Linked DNA regions of Homo sapiens: region 1 is linked to region 2. A link means that fine-mapping ties the variant in region 2 to the expression of a gene that starts in the linked region. Tissue or cell type: stomach. Region 2 holds a variant in brackets; the other region holds the start of a gene. All regions are shown on one strand. Distances are from middle to middle.

Region 1 (8,106 bases), 910 kb after region 2:
CTGTAATCCCAGCACTTTAGGAGGCTGAGGCAGAGGGATCACTTGAGGTCAGGCATATAAGACCAGCCCGGCCAACATGGTGAAACGCTATCTCTACCAAAAAGTACAAAAATTAGCTGGGCATGGTGGCACGTGCCTGTAGTCCCAACTATTCAGGAGACTGAGGTGGGAGAATCACTTGAACTCAGGAGGCAGAGGCTACAGTGAGCCGAGGTACTTCCAGCCTGTGTGAGAGAGTAAGACCCTGTCTCAAAAAAAAAAAAACTATATAAGTCTGATGTTTTCTTGTGCAAGCCTTCTAACTAATGCTTTGAGGTTTGTTTAATGCTTTTATTTTAAAAATTTTTATGACACTATTTTGGCTTTCCGTTTCTTCTTGAATCCATTTTGACAAGCTGTATTTTTCTAGAAATTTGTCCATCAATGCACCAGCATGAAACTTTACCTGTCTATTGTCTTTTTTATTGAGAGAGTGGTAAAAGCAATCATCAGGCATTTCATACAAGAGATGTGAGGCACCATTCTTGCCTCATGCACTGTGTTTTTCCACAGTCCCTGCTGCCCACATGATCACGTTTTGTGCCACATGTCACCTACTTCCAGTCCCAGGTGATGGGGACAAGTGGAGGCACAGGGGAGGCTCCTGTTGTAAGTGCAGCCAACCCATCAGCTGCTCACAAAACACTGAAGTAGTCTAATATGACAAGGTGAGGCTGGGCCCAAGATACATCCTAAAAAAGGGCATACCAAAAAAACATTCGATAGATTTGACAAAATAAAAACACTAAACTTCTATAAATCAAAAAGTACTATAAAATTAAAAGGCAAATAGCAGCGGCACCACGCCTTCTCTCTGAGACAGGAAGGACTGGACCCAGCCTCATAGGTGCAGCCACCCTCCTCTCCCTTCCTGCCAATAACCTGCTTCAGCTACTGCTTGCATCTACTTTGGGCAACATGGTTGGTTGGAATGCCTCTGGCTCACAACCGTGACATACCAGACTTGGCTTCAGTGCTCGAAGAAATGAAACAGGTTATGCATGTCAGGAAGAAACCTGCTTGTTCCTGAGATCAACTCCAGGACTGCCTTCTGGGTACAGATTCTGCTGCCTTGAGAGCAGCCTCTGCCACCTGCACCAAAGGCTCCAGCTCCTACCTCTAGTCTTGTGGCTATCTTCCTTTCTAGACGCTGAAATGCATTAGAGTTAAAATCAGGCCACAATTATGAACTATCCTCTGTTTTCTCAACATCTCCCCTTCTTCCCATCCCTCTTCTGGCCAAGTGGAGGTGTCTATGATAGCATCACTGTGCTAGATTAGAAAATCTTGCTTTTAATTGGTGGTCTTAATTGATGTTCCAATTTTCTCTTGGGATTTGTACTATTTTGTTTTTAAAACTTCTTTGTGTATGGCTAAACTGAAACAAACGTACTATTTCGCCATGATAGCAATTATAAAGGGTACCTTTAAAGCATTTGAAACTGAATCATGTTGCTTCGAAGGCAATTAAAATTAATATGTAAAGCCAAAAGAAAAATAAATGGGGAAAGTACTTGTAGCAAATGTGACATGAGGGTGACTCCTTGGTGACTCACCTCTGGTAAAAGACAGGGGTCATTCTGCAAAAGCAGGATCCGAAGCTGGTTTTCATTGAGACCAAAAAGTCCATGGCTTTTCAGGACCTGCATGTTGACAGGTGTGTGGATATCATGGGAAAGGGTACAGGTAGACCTAAAAGAACAAAGCCCTCGGTCAGATGCCCAGGTGAAGAAGGACCAGTCTGTCCAATTCCTTGCCTTGAGCAGCTTTCAATGTATTTAATACATGTGAAGTTGAGTAATTTTCATGAAACCGGGGATAGTATGGCCTAATAAGCACTGATGGAAAATAAGAAAATTGGGTTGAAGGAACTCCTCTCCCAGGGTCATTTGAATTTTCAGTAGGGATGCTTTGAAGCCAAGGGTCGCCCACCTCGCCTGAGGATGCACATCTGTTCCGTAGGCGACTGCACCTGGCCTTCTCCCCGGCAACAGCTGCCACAGTCCACCAACGTTAAAAAGAAAGCGCCCCTATCCCCAGCACCGCTTTGGCGGGGTGTGTGGCTAGAGACAACCAAGGAAAATTCGGGGCTGTGAAGCACAGCCTGGGGTCAGGAGGCAGCCCCGAACCCCAGCTCTGGCAGTCAGGAACCACAGGGCCTCACCCAAGCCATCCAGCCCTGTTTCCTGGGGTGAGACTGGCTCAGCGCTGTTAAACCTAGAGGGCGCAGACCCGCTTCTGCACAAGTGTGTGGATATGGGGGAGCAGCGATTTCCGGCTAAAGGGTCCAGGGATCTCATGGGATCCTCAGACGCCCCACGCCCCCCACCTCCCGCCAAATATCACCAGAATAAGTGAGCTCCGAAGTCCCAGTCCGGATTTAACCCGGCCGCGTCGCGCAGGATCCGGGGGGGCGGGCGGGGGCAGCAACTTTTCTGGCGTGGGCGGTTGAGACGTCTCCATGGAGAGGACCTTCGCGCCTTTCCGCCCAGCTGCTGGAAGCGCGGGGGAGGACGCCCAGGAAAGGCCTGCGGGAGGGGGTCGTCCAGCCCCGCGTCCCCGGCCCGGGGCAGGACGAAGCCCCCCTTCCCGTCGCTCCCGCTTCCAGCAGGACGGCCAGGCCCGCGGCCAGCGCCCACAGTCCCCGCCCGCCGCCGCCTTCTCACCAGCAGTCCCGGTTGGGGCACTTGCCCAGCATGTGCCGGCGGCAGAAGTGCAGCTGGTCGCAGGCCTGGCACTCGCCGCGCTGGTAGCGGGCGCAGAGGCGCACAGAGGACACGGCCACCACCCTCCAGGCGGAGGTGCCGCCACCGCCCACCGCGCCGGCCGCCGCCTCGGCCTCCGCGTCCCCGAGGCCCTCCTGCGTCTCCACCTCCTGCAGCAGGAAACGCTCGGGCCCGGCGCGCTGCAGCACGTCCCGGAGCCTGGCCTCCGACAGCTCCACGTGGCCGCGCAGGTCCTTCAGGAACATGCGGCCGCCGTGGGCGCACAGCACCTTGGTGAGGAAGGAGCACACTGTGGGCTCCGCCATGGTCGCTGGCGCGGGCCCTGTGCGCGCGGCGCAGCGAGCCGGGGCGGGCAGGCTCCTCCCAGTCACGTCCACGATTTCCAGCGAACAGCCCGGGGATGGGCCTGGGCCTGGCGAGGGGTGGGCCTGCGGGAGGCCGGGCGAGGGGCGGCCCCGGCGCGTGGAAGCAGGGTACGGCGCCTGCGGATCCCCTGGACGTGGACTCAGGCGGGGACAGCGTTGATGGAGCGTCTGCTCCGCCCAGGCACCGTTCAGGGCGAAGCCTGGCCTTGAGGGGCTTGTATAGTGGGAGTCACAAAGGACTCGCCAACAAGACAACTGGTAGTGCTAGGGAGGCCTGCGGAGAAGGAGAAATAGGTAAAAGGTGGTAGGAGGTGAGTGGCCGGGCTGCTTCGCGGGAGGTGGCCACTAGCCACATGTGGCTGCTGAGCACTTCTGGGATTTTTTGTTGTTGTTGTATTTTTATTTTTGGAGACAAGGCCTCACGTTATCGCCCAGGCTGGAGTGCAGTGGCGCTATCGTAGTTCGCTGCAGCCTGGAACTCCTGGGCTCAAGCGATCCTCCCACCTCAGCCTCCTGAGTAGCTGAGACCGAAGGTTCGCATCACTAATTTTTTTGGTTTTTGTTTTGCTTTGTAGAAACGGGGTCTCCTCATGTTGCCCAGGCTGGTCTCGAACTCCTCAAGCGATCCACCTGCCTCAGCCTCCCAGAGCACTGGAATTACAGGCGTGAGCCACCCCGCGGGGCCTGCTGAGCTTTATTGGAAAGTGGCTAGTCCGAATTGAGATGTGATATAAGTGTGAAATACACACACTAGATTTTGAGGACTGAGAATGAGAAAAAGAATGTAAAATATCTCACTAACTTTATATGAATCACATGTTAAACATAATATTTTGGATATATTTGGATAAATAAAATGTTATGACAACTTCATGTGTTGCTTCTACTTTCCTAATGTAGCTATGAGGAAATTTTACATTGCAAATGTGGATTACCTTATTTTTGTTGAGCAGCACCAGTCTAGACCTGCCTTAAGCATCCATGCTTTTTGTCCAACACCTTGCTTGTTTCATGAACGTTTGTTGAGCCAACTACTAACGCAGTGACAGTACAAAGATGAATCAGACCATCAGAGAACTCAGCCAGCCTAGCTGCTATTTTGCAAGGTGCTCGTGAGGATTAAATGCATTAATGTCATGTAATGTAAAGAAGCTAGAGAGGAAGACAACTGGCCAGATGCCAGAAGACCTTCTCTGCCATGCTGTGAAATTTGGACTTATATCCCGAGAACTTTGGGAAGTCACTAAAGGATTTTCATCTGGGAAGTGTGGATGTCTCCTGAGTGCCACTCAAGGTGTGTCATTCAGCTCTGAGCTTTAATGTCTTCTCTTCAGCAAAACCTTTCCTGACCTCTCAAATCTAAAGTAGCTCCCCAGTCTGCATGGAACTTACCACTGATATTTTTCTTCTTTATTGTGTATTTATATATTTAGCTATAGAATTCAGGCTCATGAAAGCAGGAACCTTGTTTTGTTCATTGCTGTATCCCTACCACCTAAAATAGTACCTGGCCATATTGTAGGATAGGTGTTTTAGAAAGACCCCTGGCAGCAATGAGAAGAATGGATTTCTAGAAAAGCAAGACGAGGTGGGGAATAACAGAAAATAAACAGGATTTGAGGGACTATAACCCCAGTGTTATTTATGTTGAGAGTTTGCAGTGGACAACCCAAGGTAAGACGCTCAACAGGCAGGTGTATTCTGTATACAGGTCTAGACCTTGAGGGACATGAGAAGGGAAGGGATGTAGATTTGCGTGACATCAGAGCATTAGGTAACTGAGAGTTGATAAGATCACCTGGCAAAAATGAAGAGTGTGAAAAGGTGGGGGACGGGGGGAAAGAAGCTTGGCGAATACCCACATTAAATAAGCAAGTGGGGGAAGAGAAAAATAGGCAGTAGCCTACGTCCCCTTGGCACTCAGCATTTGTTCCTGAACTCTCTGCCTAAGCTTTTTCCAACAGAAGGAGGAAGCAGCCAGCAGGAAAGGCAGGCTGGAATTACCAAGGAGCCAACACCTCCAGGAAGAGCCTTCATCCAGGGATGTTGGGGAATTGGTGGTTTGAGGATGCACTCTCAACCCTAAAATTGGCATGAGGATTATTTTAAACTAAAGACATGTAAGATTCAATAGAGGCAAAAAGAAGCCTTCTTGAAGCTTCCTTTATTTCAGTAAAAGCAGAATCTTCTGGGAGTGAGGTTGCCATTCATCCCCTCTCCAGGGGTTTATGGACATGAAATAGAAAACCACGTGCACCTGCATAAACAACTTCCCTATGAACACAAACTTCCTTATCTCCTGTTTGTTCCCTAGAAACCCCTTTGTTCTTCCCATAGGAGCCTTTTTGCCCCCCTCTCTCCCCTATTAAGTTAGGTAAATAAATCATCATCACTTCTTTTGTGCAGTGCCATATGCATATATGTTTTTTCTCTTGTCAGTTAAATTTGCAGCCCCTCAGAACTGAACATAAGAGAGTGCAGGAAAAGTTTTTCCTCCCCAACAATGGATCAAACAGCCCAACTCATTCCTCGTGTGGAACCACTTGGAGGTGTACATTCCATGGTCTCCCAATGTTTCCTCAATGGAACTGAACCCCAGTTGCCCACAGCCACACCTGCTCATTAGCACTCCCCATACAGTCTTCCTTCCTTTCCTTGCCCTACCTCCCCATTCCCCTGCCAGTGTTTCTTAGGATCACCTCCCAAGTAAACTGTGTGCATTCAATCCTTGTCAGATTGCTCCTGAGAGAACATAGCCTAACATATAAACTGATAAGGAGAGGTTAGAGAAAAATGAGAGTCATTCATGGACACGCAGAGGAGAGAGTTTCAAGGAGAAAGTGATCAGCATGGTGAGATACTACAGGGAGGAGCTTTCCTACAAGGGAAAGCTTGTAGACAGTGATAACCTAGGCAGGTTTATTTCAGAGGAATAATGAGAAAAGGTAGATTTCTGTAGGTTAAAAAAAGAAGAATAGAAAAACCGAGGACTTTACTTCTAAAAGTAAGTAAGGTAATGATAATAAGAGGAAGACACAAGACTGAGAAAGGTATTTTATTATAGGAGAGACAAGCATAGTTACATGCTGAGTAGAAAGAGCCAGTAAGACCGGGCGCGGTGGCTCACGCCTGTAATCCCAGCACTTTGGGAGGCCGAGGCGGGCAGACCACGAGGTCAGGAGTTCGAGACCATCCTGGCTAACATGGTGAAACCCCATCTCTACTAAAAGTACAAAAAATTAGCCAGGCGTGGTGGCGGGCGCCTGTAGTCCCAGCTACCCGGGAGGCAGAGACAGGAGAATGGAGTGAACCCAGGAGGCGGAGCTTGCAGTGAGCCAAGATCGTGCCACTGTACTCCAGCCTGGAGAACAGAGTGAAACTCCGTCTCAAAAACAAAACAAAGAGAAAAGAAAGAGCTAGTAAGAATGGAAAGTTGAAAATAAAGGAGGCCAGGTGCGGTGACTCATGCCTGCAGTCCCAGCATTTTGGGAGGCTGAGGCAGGAGAATCACTTGAGTCCAGGAGTTTGAGATCAGCCTGGGCAACATGGTAGAACCCTGTCTCTACTAAAAATGCAAAAATTAGCTAGGCATGGTGGCATGTGCCTGTAGTCTCAGCTACTCAGGAGGCTGAGGTGGGAGGATTGCTTGAGTCTAAGAGGTCAGAGGCTGCAGTGAGCCAAGATCGTGCTACTGCACTCCAGCCTGGGCGACAGAAAAAGGTAGGAAGGAAGGGAAAGGAAAGAAAAGGAAGGAGAGAGAGAAGAAAAAAAGAAAGAATATAAAGGAAAGGGGAATTGTAATCAGCGGGGGATGTCCATAGGCAGTGAGATAGAATGGGAGACGTCAGAGGAACTAACCTCCGACAGGAGGGGAGATGCTTCTTCCATTCACACAACAGGAAAGGAGACAAGGATTAGAGCATCTAAAGACAAGTTTGTAGGCTTTGTTTTGTTTTGTTTTTTTAAGTTTAAGGCAAAACCAAGAATGGATGGTGGAGAGTCACTTCAGGAGACCATAAAGGCTTGACAAAGCTGACTTGTGGAGAGGGGAGAAGGCTGACAGGTAGGACCAGTGGGCATGGGCAGGGCCTTACCAAGGCCACAAATTCGTAGTGGCATTGATCCAAACAGTGCTGCAATTCTCCTAAAAGCTCTCAAGGTGTAAGAACAGAATTTGATTGATTCACTTTTAGGTTTTGCCAGTGGGTGAGACTTAAGGTCAAAGGTTCTAGATGATTGAGGTATGAATTGAAAGAGTGATCAGGGGGCTGGGTGCAGTGGCTCATGCCTGTAATCCCGCCACTTTGGGAGGCTGAGGCAGGTGGATCACCTGAGGTCGGGGATTCAAAACCAGCCTTAGCAAAGTGGTGAAACCCTGTCTCTACCCAAAATTACAAAAATTAGCCAGGTGTGGTGGCACACGCCTGTAATCCTAGCACTTTGGAAGGCCGAGGCAGGAGGATCACTTGAGGTCAGGAGTTCGAGACCAGCCTGGCCAACATATTGAAACCCCATCTCTACTAAAAATTAGCCAGGATGGCAGTGGGTACCTGTAATCTCAGCTACTCAGGAGGCTCAGGTGGGAGAATCACTTGAACCTGGGAAGCGGAGGCTGCAGTGAGTTGAGATCACACCACTGCACTCCAGCCTAGGAGACAGAGTGAGGCGCCGTTTCAAAAAAAAAAAAAAGAAGAAAAGAAAGAGTGGTCAGGGGCTGAACAATGGGCTGGAGACTAGGTAAGGGAGGAGTGAAGACAGCAAGGGGCTATATGTGAGCAGAGAAAGACGACGTACGAAATGTAGGAGGGCCAGAGAGCTCAAAAGCAGGCTGGGGTCAGAGGTAGAATATAGAGGTTTGGGATTTCAGAAACAGCAGTTCTAGGCCATTTGCAGTGATTCGTGCCTGTAATCCCAGCACTTTGGGAGGCTGAGGCAGGAGGATCAGTTGAGGTCAGGAATTCAAGACCAGCCTGGCC
Region 2 (8,106 bases):
TTTTAGCTTCCTGCTTCCCTCACTTCAGATTCCCAAAAAAATGATATAGTAGAAATCTCCATCAGCACTGAAAATTAAGAAGGTTGCTGCCTATCAGAGGGTGTAAATGAGAAGAAACTGTCAAAGTATAATTTTTTACAAATCAGGCCGGGCATGGTGGCTCACACCTGTAATCCCAGCACTTTGGGAGGCCAAGGCAGGCAGATCACCTGAGGTTGGGAGTTCGAGACCAGCCTGACCAACATGGAGAAACCCCGTTTCTACTAAAAATACAAAATTATCCAGGCGTGGAGGCGCATGCCTGTAATCCCAGCTACTCGGGAAGGCTGAGGCAGAAGAATTACTTGAACCTTGGAGGCAGAGGTTGTGGTGAGCTGAGATTGCGCCATTGCACTCTAACCTGGGCAACAAGCGCGAAGCTCCATCTCAAAAAAAAAAAAAATCAAAAATATGATTTTTATGTAAATACAAAATGAGTACATACCAGTGATTTAATTATCTCATTAATGATGGAAACAGAAAAACGGTAAGAGAAATACCAAGAGAATTGGAGAAAGTAAAATGTTTCAGCAGCTGAAAGAAAGGATGCTTGGATCAAATTGCTCATTTAGCTCCAAACCAGTTTAGCCTTCTGAAAGGCAATACAACTATATAACTTTTGAGTTTATCTTTTCTACCAGATTTAATAATTTATATCTCTACAATAAAAGATCCATTTGCATTGTTATTGGACAAGAATCATTTTCATCACTACCAGGTTTCTATTAGTTAATAACTACTCTTACAAAATTGTAAATTACCCTATTAAACAGTTCACTCAGCTGACCTGGGAAATCCAAACCCTGCACCTTCCAAAGAAAGGTCTGGCCATTAACCACTTATTGGGAGATAACCTCTAAGCCCTTGGAATGTCATTCCTGAGAAGAATGTCTTTGCTTATCTGGGGCTTTGGGCCACACTAGACAGTTTATGCTAACAATGTGATTTATGAAGGGGGGTGGGGAGGCAGGTGGCTACATGATGTCAGTTTGACTCCAAAGGGCTGGAGACTGAGTAACTAAGGTCAGCTATGTGGGCACTCCAAGCCTATATGACTGACCCCCAATAAAAACCCTGGATCTAGGGCCGGGCGTGGTGGCTCACACCTGTAATCCCAGCACTTTGGGAGGCCGAGGCGGGCGAATCACAAGGTCAGGAGATCGAGACCATCCGGGCTAACATGGTGAAACGCTGTCTCTACTAAAAATACAAAAACTTAGCCGGGCATGGTGGCGGGTGCTGGTGGTCCCAGCTACTCGGGAGGCTGAGGCAGGAGAATGGTATGAACCCGGGAGGCAGAGCTTGCAGTGAGCCGAGATCGTGCCACTGCTTCCAGCCTGGGTGACAGAGCGAGACTCCGTCTCAAAAACAAAAAAAAACAAAAAACGCTGGATCTCAACGTTTAGATAAGTTTCCCTGGTTGACAATACTACTTACGTGTTGTCACACATCACTGCTGGAAAAGTTAAGCACTATCTATACAACTCCACTGAGAGAGAACAAGTAGAAATTTGTGCCTGGTCTCTCTCTTGGACTCTGCCATATTGTCCTTTTACCTTGGATAATAAATCTAAATTCTTTTTCTATAATAAACCATAACTATGAGTAGAACAGCTTTTCTGAGTTCTGTGGTTCCTTCCAGCAAATTATTGAACCCGAGGGTGGTCTTAGGAACCCTATACCACAAATAATTAACAGCAAATCAAAAAAAGTTACAAAGTTTCCCCTGAGGGGAATCAGTCCTTGAGGAAGCCTGCTAGACAATCCCCACAACACTGAAAGTCGACACATTTTTTTTTCATCCACTTTCAAATTTTAGATAATTTTTCTTAATGTATCTTAGAGAAAATACGAAGTGTGAGACTTTAATGAGCTGTGGCAGGAATACAATAATACCTTTAATGTCATGACAGGCCCTTACCTACTCTACAAATTTGTGGTAACAAAGTATATTGAAAACTGTATGAATCACCCTGATGCCCACAGAAAATAGATGACTGTGCACACTGAGCACTACTGAATTCACATCCCTTGATAAAGAATTTTGCCTTCATATTAAACTATTTGTAATTTATGTTGTTATACATATATATGAGTATATATAAATACACACACTCACAGTAAAGTACATAAAGTACACTAATCTGAAATGTACAGCTCAGTGATATTTTTTACATATATACACACCTGTATTATTCCATTCTTGCATTGCTATAAAGAAATACCTGAGATGGGGTAATTTATAAAGAAAAGAGGTTTAACTGGCTCACAGTTCCACAGGCTGTACAGGAAGAATGATGCTGGCCATCTGCTCAGCTTCTGGGGAGGCCTCAGGAAACTTGCAATCATGGCGGGAGGTGAAGGAGAAGCAGGCTCATCTCACATGGCCCAGGCAGGAGCAAGGGAGTGCAGTGGGGGTTGGGGAGGTGCCACACACTTCTCAACAACCAGATTTCATTAGAACTCTTATCAAGAGAATAGCACCAAGGGAATGATGTTAAACCATTCATGAAGGATCCACCCCCATGCCCCAATCACCTCCCACCACGCCCCACCTCCAACACTGGGGATTACAATTTGACATGAGATTTGGGTGGAACACAGATCCAAACCGTATCATTCTGCCCCTGGCCCCTCCCAAATCTCATGTCCTTCTCACATTTCAAAATACAATCATGCCCTCCCAACAGTCCTTCAAAGTCTTAACTCATTCCAGCATTAACTCAAAAGTCCACAGTCTCATCCGAGACAAAGCAAGTCCCTTCCACCTACGAGCCTGTAAAATAAAAAACAAGTTAGTCACTCCTAATATAGGCATTGGGTAAATACTCCTGTTCCATAAGGGAGAAATTGGCCAAAATAAAGGGACCACAGGCCCCATGTAAGTCCAAAACCCAGCAGGGCAGTCATTAAATCTTAAAGCCCCAAAATAATCTCCTTTGACTCCATGTGTCACATCCAAGACACACTGGTGGAAGGGTTCCCCCAAAGCCTTGTGCAGCTCCACCCCTGTGGCTTTGCAGAGTTCATCCCTTTCAGCTGCTCTCAAGGGCTGGCATTGAGTGCCTGAAGCTTTTCCAGGCTCAGGGTGTGAGCTGTCAGTAGCTCTACTATTCAGAGGTCTGGAGAATGGTGGCCTTCTTCTCACAGCTCCACTAGGCAATGCCCCAGTGGGGACTCTGTGGGGGCTCCAACCCCACATTTCTCCTCTGCACTGCCCTAGTAGACGTTCTCCATGAGGGCTATGCCTCTGCAATGGGCTTCTGTCTGGACATCAAGGCTTTTCTATACATCTTCTGAAGTCTAGGCAAAAGCTCCCAAGACTCAACTCTTATATTCTGTGCACCTGAAGGCTTAACACCACATGGAAGTCACCAAGGCTTACAGATTGCACCCTCTGAAGCAGAGGCCCAAGCTGTTCCTGGTCCCCTTTGATCCACGGCTGGAGCTGGAGTGACTGGGATGGAGGGAGCAGGGTCCCAAGGTTGTACAGGGTAGTGGGGCCCAGGGCCTGGCCCACAAAACCATTCAGTCCTGCTATGCCTCTGGGCCTGTGATGGAAGTGGCTGCGAAAGTCTCTGAAATGCCTTCAAGACCTCTTGCCCATTGTCTTGGCTGTTAGTACTTGGCTCCTCTTTACTTATGCAAACTTCTGCAGCCTGCTTGAATTCTTCCCCTGAAAAATGGGTTTTTCTTTTCTGCCACATGGCCAGTCTGCAGGTTTTCCAAACTTTTATGCTGTGCTTGCGTTTTAAATATAAGTTCCAGTTTCAGATCATTTCTTTGCTCATGCATATAAGCATAAGTGGTGAGAAGCAGCCAAACCACATCTTGAATACTTTGCTGCTTAGAAATTTCTTCCACCAGATACCCTAAATCATCACTCTCAAGTTCAAAGTTCCACAGATCCCTAGAGCAGGGGCACAATGCAGCCAGATTTTTTGCTAAAGCATAGCAAAAGTGACCATTACCCCAGTTCCCAATACATTCTTCAGTTCCATATGAGACCTCCTCAGCCTGGACTTCATTGTTCATATCACTGTCAGCCTTTTGGTCACAAGAATTTAACAAGTCTCTAGGAAGTGCCAAATTTTTCCTCATCTTCCTGTCTTCTTCTGAGCCCTCCACACTCTTCCAACCTCTGCCCATTACCCAGTTCCAAAGTCACTTCCACATTTTCAGGTATCTTTATAGCAATGCTCCACTCTTCAGTACCAATTTTTGTATTAGTTCATTCCTGCACTGTTATAAAGAAATACCTGAGACTGGTAATTTATAAAGAAAAGAGGTTTAATTGGCTCATGGTTCCAGAGGCTGTACAGGAAACATGATGCAGGCTATCTGCTCAGCTTCTAGGGAGGCTTCAGGA[G/A]ACTTACAATCACGGCAAAACACAAAGGAGAAACAGGCTCATCTTATACAGCCAGAGCAGGAACAAGAGAGGGCAGGAGAGAAGTGCTACATACTTTTAAACAGCAAGATTTCATGAGAACTCTATCACTAGAACAGCACCACGGGGGTGGTACCAAGCCATTCATGAAGGATCCACCCCTTCATGATCCAATTACCTCCTACCAGGTCTCCCTTTTAACATTGGGGATTACAATTAGACATGAGATTTGCGGGGGGACACAGATCCAAACCATACCAACACCCATGTCACTGACACCCAGATCAAGAGATAAAATATTTCCAGCACTCCAGGAGGTTCTCACCTGCTTCTCAATTCATGTCCTCCTTCCAGAGAAACCAGGATATTATGACTTCTCTTATTTGTGGCATTTACTAACTTTCTTAGCAAAGAAACTTCAGCTTTGTTTAGTTCCCAGTGATTGCAAAGTGGTATATCCTGAAGATTATTGGAAAACGACATGAGGGCTAGATTCTGTTATTTGTAGACTTTTTTATGCAAAAATAATTTGAGCTTAGTCATGCTTTTATACAAGTAATGTATTTTTGTTTTATTTTTATAATATATATCAGAAGAAAAGGGACAGACATGATGTTCATGCCTGTAATCCCAACACTTTGGGAGGCCGAGGCAGGAGAACCACTTAAGGCCAGGAGTTCAAGACCAGCACAACATTGTGAGATCTCACCTACACAAAAGAAGAAGAAGAATCTGAGACTTTGTTGGGATGTTTTGTTTCTTTGTTGCCTTTTGTCTAAAAACTTATTTACTAAAGATTTAGACCAAAATTCATAATTACTATGTTTATAAATAATAATCTAAGACTAGAAACTATGGACATACAATCCCCTAGGTATAGTTATGTAATCTTTTGGTTAATCTAACCTTGATTTCATCACTAAACTTGGCTATATCTCAAATAATTTTTTAAATATTTTCTTTTTTTTTCTTCAGTTGTTCTTACTGGAGATTTTCTGTTTCAGAAATCTCTGCCTAACATTATTCATGTGTGGCTAAGAATCCATAGGTGGCTTTTTCCCCTATATTTTTAGCTTTCTTCAGGTATAACTGACATATAAAAATTGTATATGTTCAAGGTATATAATGTGATATTTTGATATACCTATACATTGTGAAATGATTTGCACAATTAAGCTAATTAACGTATCCATTATCTCACAGTTACCTTTTCCTTTGATTTTTCTTGTGTGTGTGTGTGTGTGTGTGTGTGTGTGTGTGTGTTGAGAATACTCAAGCTCTATCTTAGCAAATTTCAAGTATACAATATAGTATTATTGACCATAGTCACCATGCCATACCTTAGGTCTCCAGAACTTATTCATCTTCTAACTGCAAGGTTGTATCCTTTGACCAACATCTCCTCATTTCTCCCCTACCTCAACCCTGTTACTACCCTTCTATTCTTTGTTTCTATGGGTTCAGCTATTTTAGATTCCACATGTAAGTATTCATCTTCTTATATCTGACATTTAATTAGCAAAATCTCCTCCAGATTCATCCATGTTGTTGCAAAAGGTAGGATTTCTTTCTTTGTTCAGGCTGAATAATAGTTTGTTATAATAAGTGTGTGTATGTATACTTGATATATATATCAAGTATAAATATATATTTGGTCTCTGTCCCTGGTTCCTGGCACACAGCTGCTAAAATCCTTGGAATCTACAAAGTGATATGTCTTTTTGTATGCTAATGAGATGGCTGATCACTGAGTACTCCAAATAACCACAGGATAGTTGCCAGGGCTGCCAACTATGTGATTGGAGGGTTAAAACTTTCAGCCCCACCCCCACCTCTAGGAAGCGGAGAGGGGTTAAAGGTTGATTTGGTCATCAAAGACCAATCATACCTACCTAATGAAGTATGTGTGTATTACACATATATATGTATAATTTCCTTGTCCATTCACCCACTGACAGACATTTAGATTGTTTCTGTATCTTCGCTATCATGAAAAATGCTGCTGCAATGAACATGGGAGTCCAGATATCCACCTTTTTCAAGATCCTGATTGTGGTTCTTTTGGATATACCCAAAAGTGGGATTGCTGCGTCATGTGGTAGTTTTATTTTTAATTTTTTGAGCACCCTTTATACTGTTTCCCACAGTGGCTGCACCATTTCACATTCCCACCAATAGCGTACAAGAGTTCCAGTTTCTCCACATTCTTGCCAATACTTGATATCTTTCATGGTTTTGATAATTGCCATTTATTGCCTTTTTCTGTTGAGTATTTGTATGTCTTCCTTGGAAAAATATCTGTTCAGGTTCTTTGCTCATTTTAAAATCAGGTTGTTTTTCTACTACTGAGTTGTAAGAGTTCCTTATATATTTTGGATATAAACTCCTTATAGGATCTATGGTTTGTGCATATTCTCTCTCATTCTGTGGGCTGACTTTTCGTTTTGCTGATTGTTTCCTTTGCTTTGCAGAAACTTTTTACTTTGATATAATCCTGCCTGCTTATTTTTGCTTTTGTTGCTTGTGCTTTTGGTGTCATTGACAAGACCTCTGTCATAGAGCTTTTCCCCTATATTTTCTTTTAGGAATTTTATGGTTTCAGATCTTGCATTTAAATCTTTAATCAAGTTTGAGTTGATTTTTGTGCATGGTGTAAGATAAGAATCCAATTTCATTTTTTTGTTTCTTTTTGAATGTGGATATCCAATTTTCCCAACATCATTCACTGAAGAGACTATTCTCTCTGCATTGTATATTCTTGGCATCTTTATTGAAGATTACTTGATCATATATGTATTGGTTTATTTATTGGTTTCCTGTTACATCCCATTGGTTTATGTGTGTTTGTTTTTATGCTTGTATCATATTGCTTTAGTTACTATCACTTTGTAATGAAATTTGAAATCAGAACACAAAGCCTCCAGCTTTGTTCTTCTTGATCAAGATTGCTTTAACTATTCAGGGTCTCTTGAGGTGCCATATAAATGTTATGATTTTTTTTCTATTTCCATGAAAAATGACATTGGCATTTTCATAGGAATTGCATTAAATCTATAGATCACTTTCAGTAATATAGACAAGTTTCCAATATTGATTCTTCTGATCCATAAACATGAAATACCTATTTATTTGTGTCTTCTTCAATTTTATTCATTAATTCATTATGTTTCATAGTTTTCAGTATACAGATATTTCACCTTTTTGGTTAAATTTATTTCTAATTATTTTATTCCCGTTGATGCTATTATAAATGTGACTTTTTAAAAAATTTCTTGTTCAGATAGTTTATTGCCAAAGTATAGAAACACAAGTGATTTTTATATGTAGATGCTGTATCCTAAAACTTAACTGAATTCATTTATTAATTCTAACACTTTTGGGTAGAATCTTTAGGTTGTTCTATACATAAAATCTTGTAATCAGCAAACAGAGACATTTTGACTTCTTTTCTGATTTGGATGACTTTTATTTCTTTATGTTGCCCAATTCCTTTGGCTAGGACTTCAGTACTATGTTGAAAAAAAAAGTGGTGAGAGTGAGTGTAATATTGTGATATAATAAAATATATATATACTTGGTCTCTGTCCCTGGTTCCAGGCACAAAGCTGCTAAAATCCTTGAAATCTGCAAAGCGATATGTATTTTTGTATGCTAATGAGATGGCTGATCACTGAGTACTC

Alleles and levels. Positions count from the first base shown, and alleles are read on the strand shown. Sizes are in standard deviations (SD) of each study's normalised expression.
As copies of A replace G in region 2, the expression in stomach of the gene that starts at base 3,095 in region 1 goes up (moderate effect, 0.41 SD a copy in GTEx).

The links. PIP is the estimated chance that this variant, and not a neighbour inherited with it, causes the effect.
Region 1: it holds the start of ZC3HAV1L, and the variant in region 2 is fine-mapped to the expression of ZC3HAV1L in stomach (GTEx, PIP 0.95).

The regions. Positions count from the first base shown.
Region 1 is chr7:139,032,948-139,041,053 of GRCh38, forward strand. ZC3HAV1L (ZC3HAV1 like) reads right to left here and starts at 3,095. Exons shown (of 5, transcript NM_080660.4): 1 at 2,706-3,095; 2 at 1,596-1,731. The coding sequence starts at 3,070. LOC107986852 (a long non-coding RNA gene) reads left to right here and starts at 3,236. Exons shown (of 2, transcript XR_007060557.1): 1 at 3,236-3,424; 2 at 3,706-4,003. RefSeq lists silencers at 2,408-2,927, 3,178-3,387 and an enhancer at 2,502-3,421.
Region 2 is chr7:138,126,185-138,134,290 of GRCh38, forward strand. No RefSeq gene overlaps it. Among named protein-coding and RNA genes, the nearest start is that of MIR4468, 6.5 kb to the left of the region's middle. RefSeq lists an enhancer at 5,888-6,464. The variant G/A (reference allele first, on the strand shown) is at 4,409.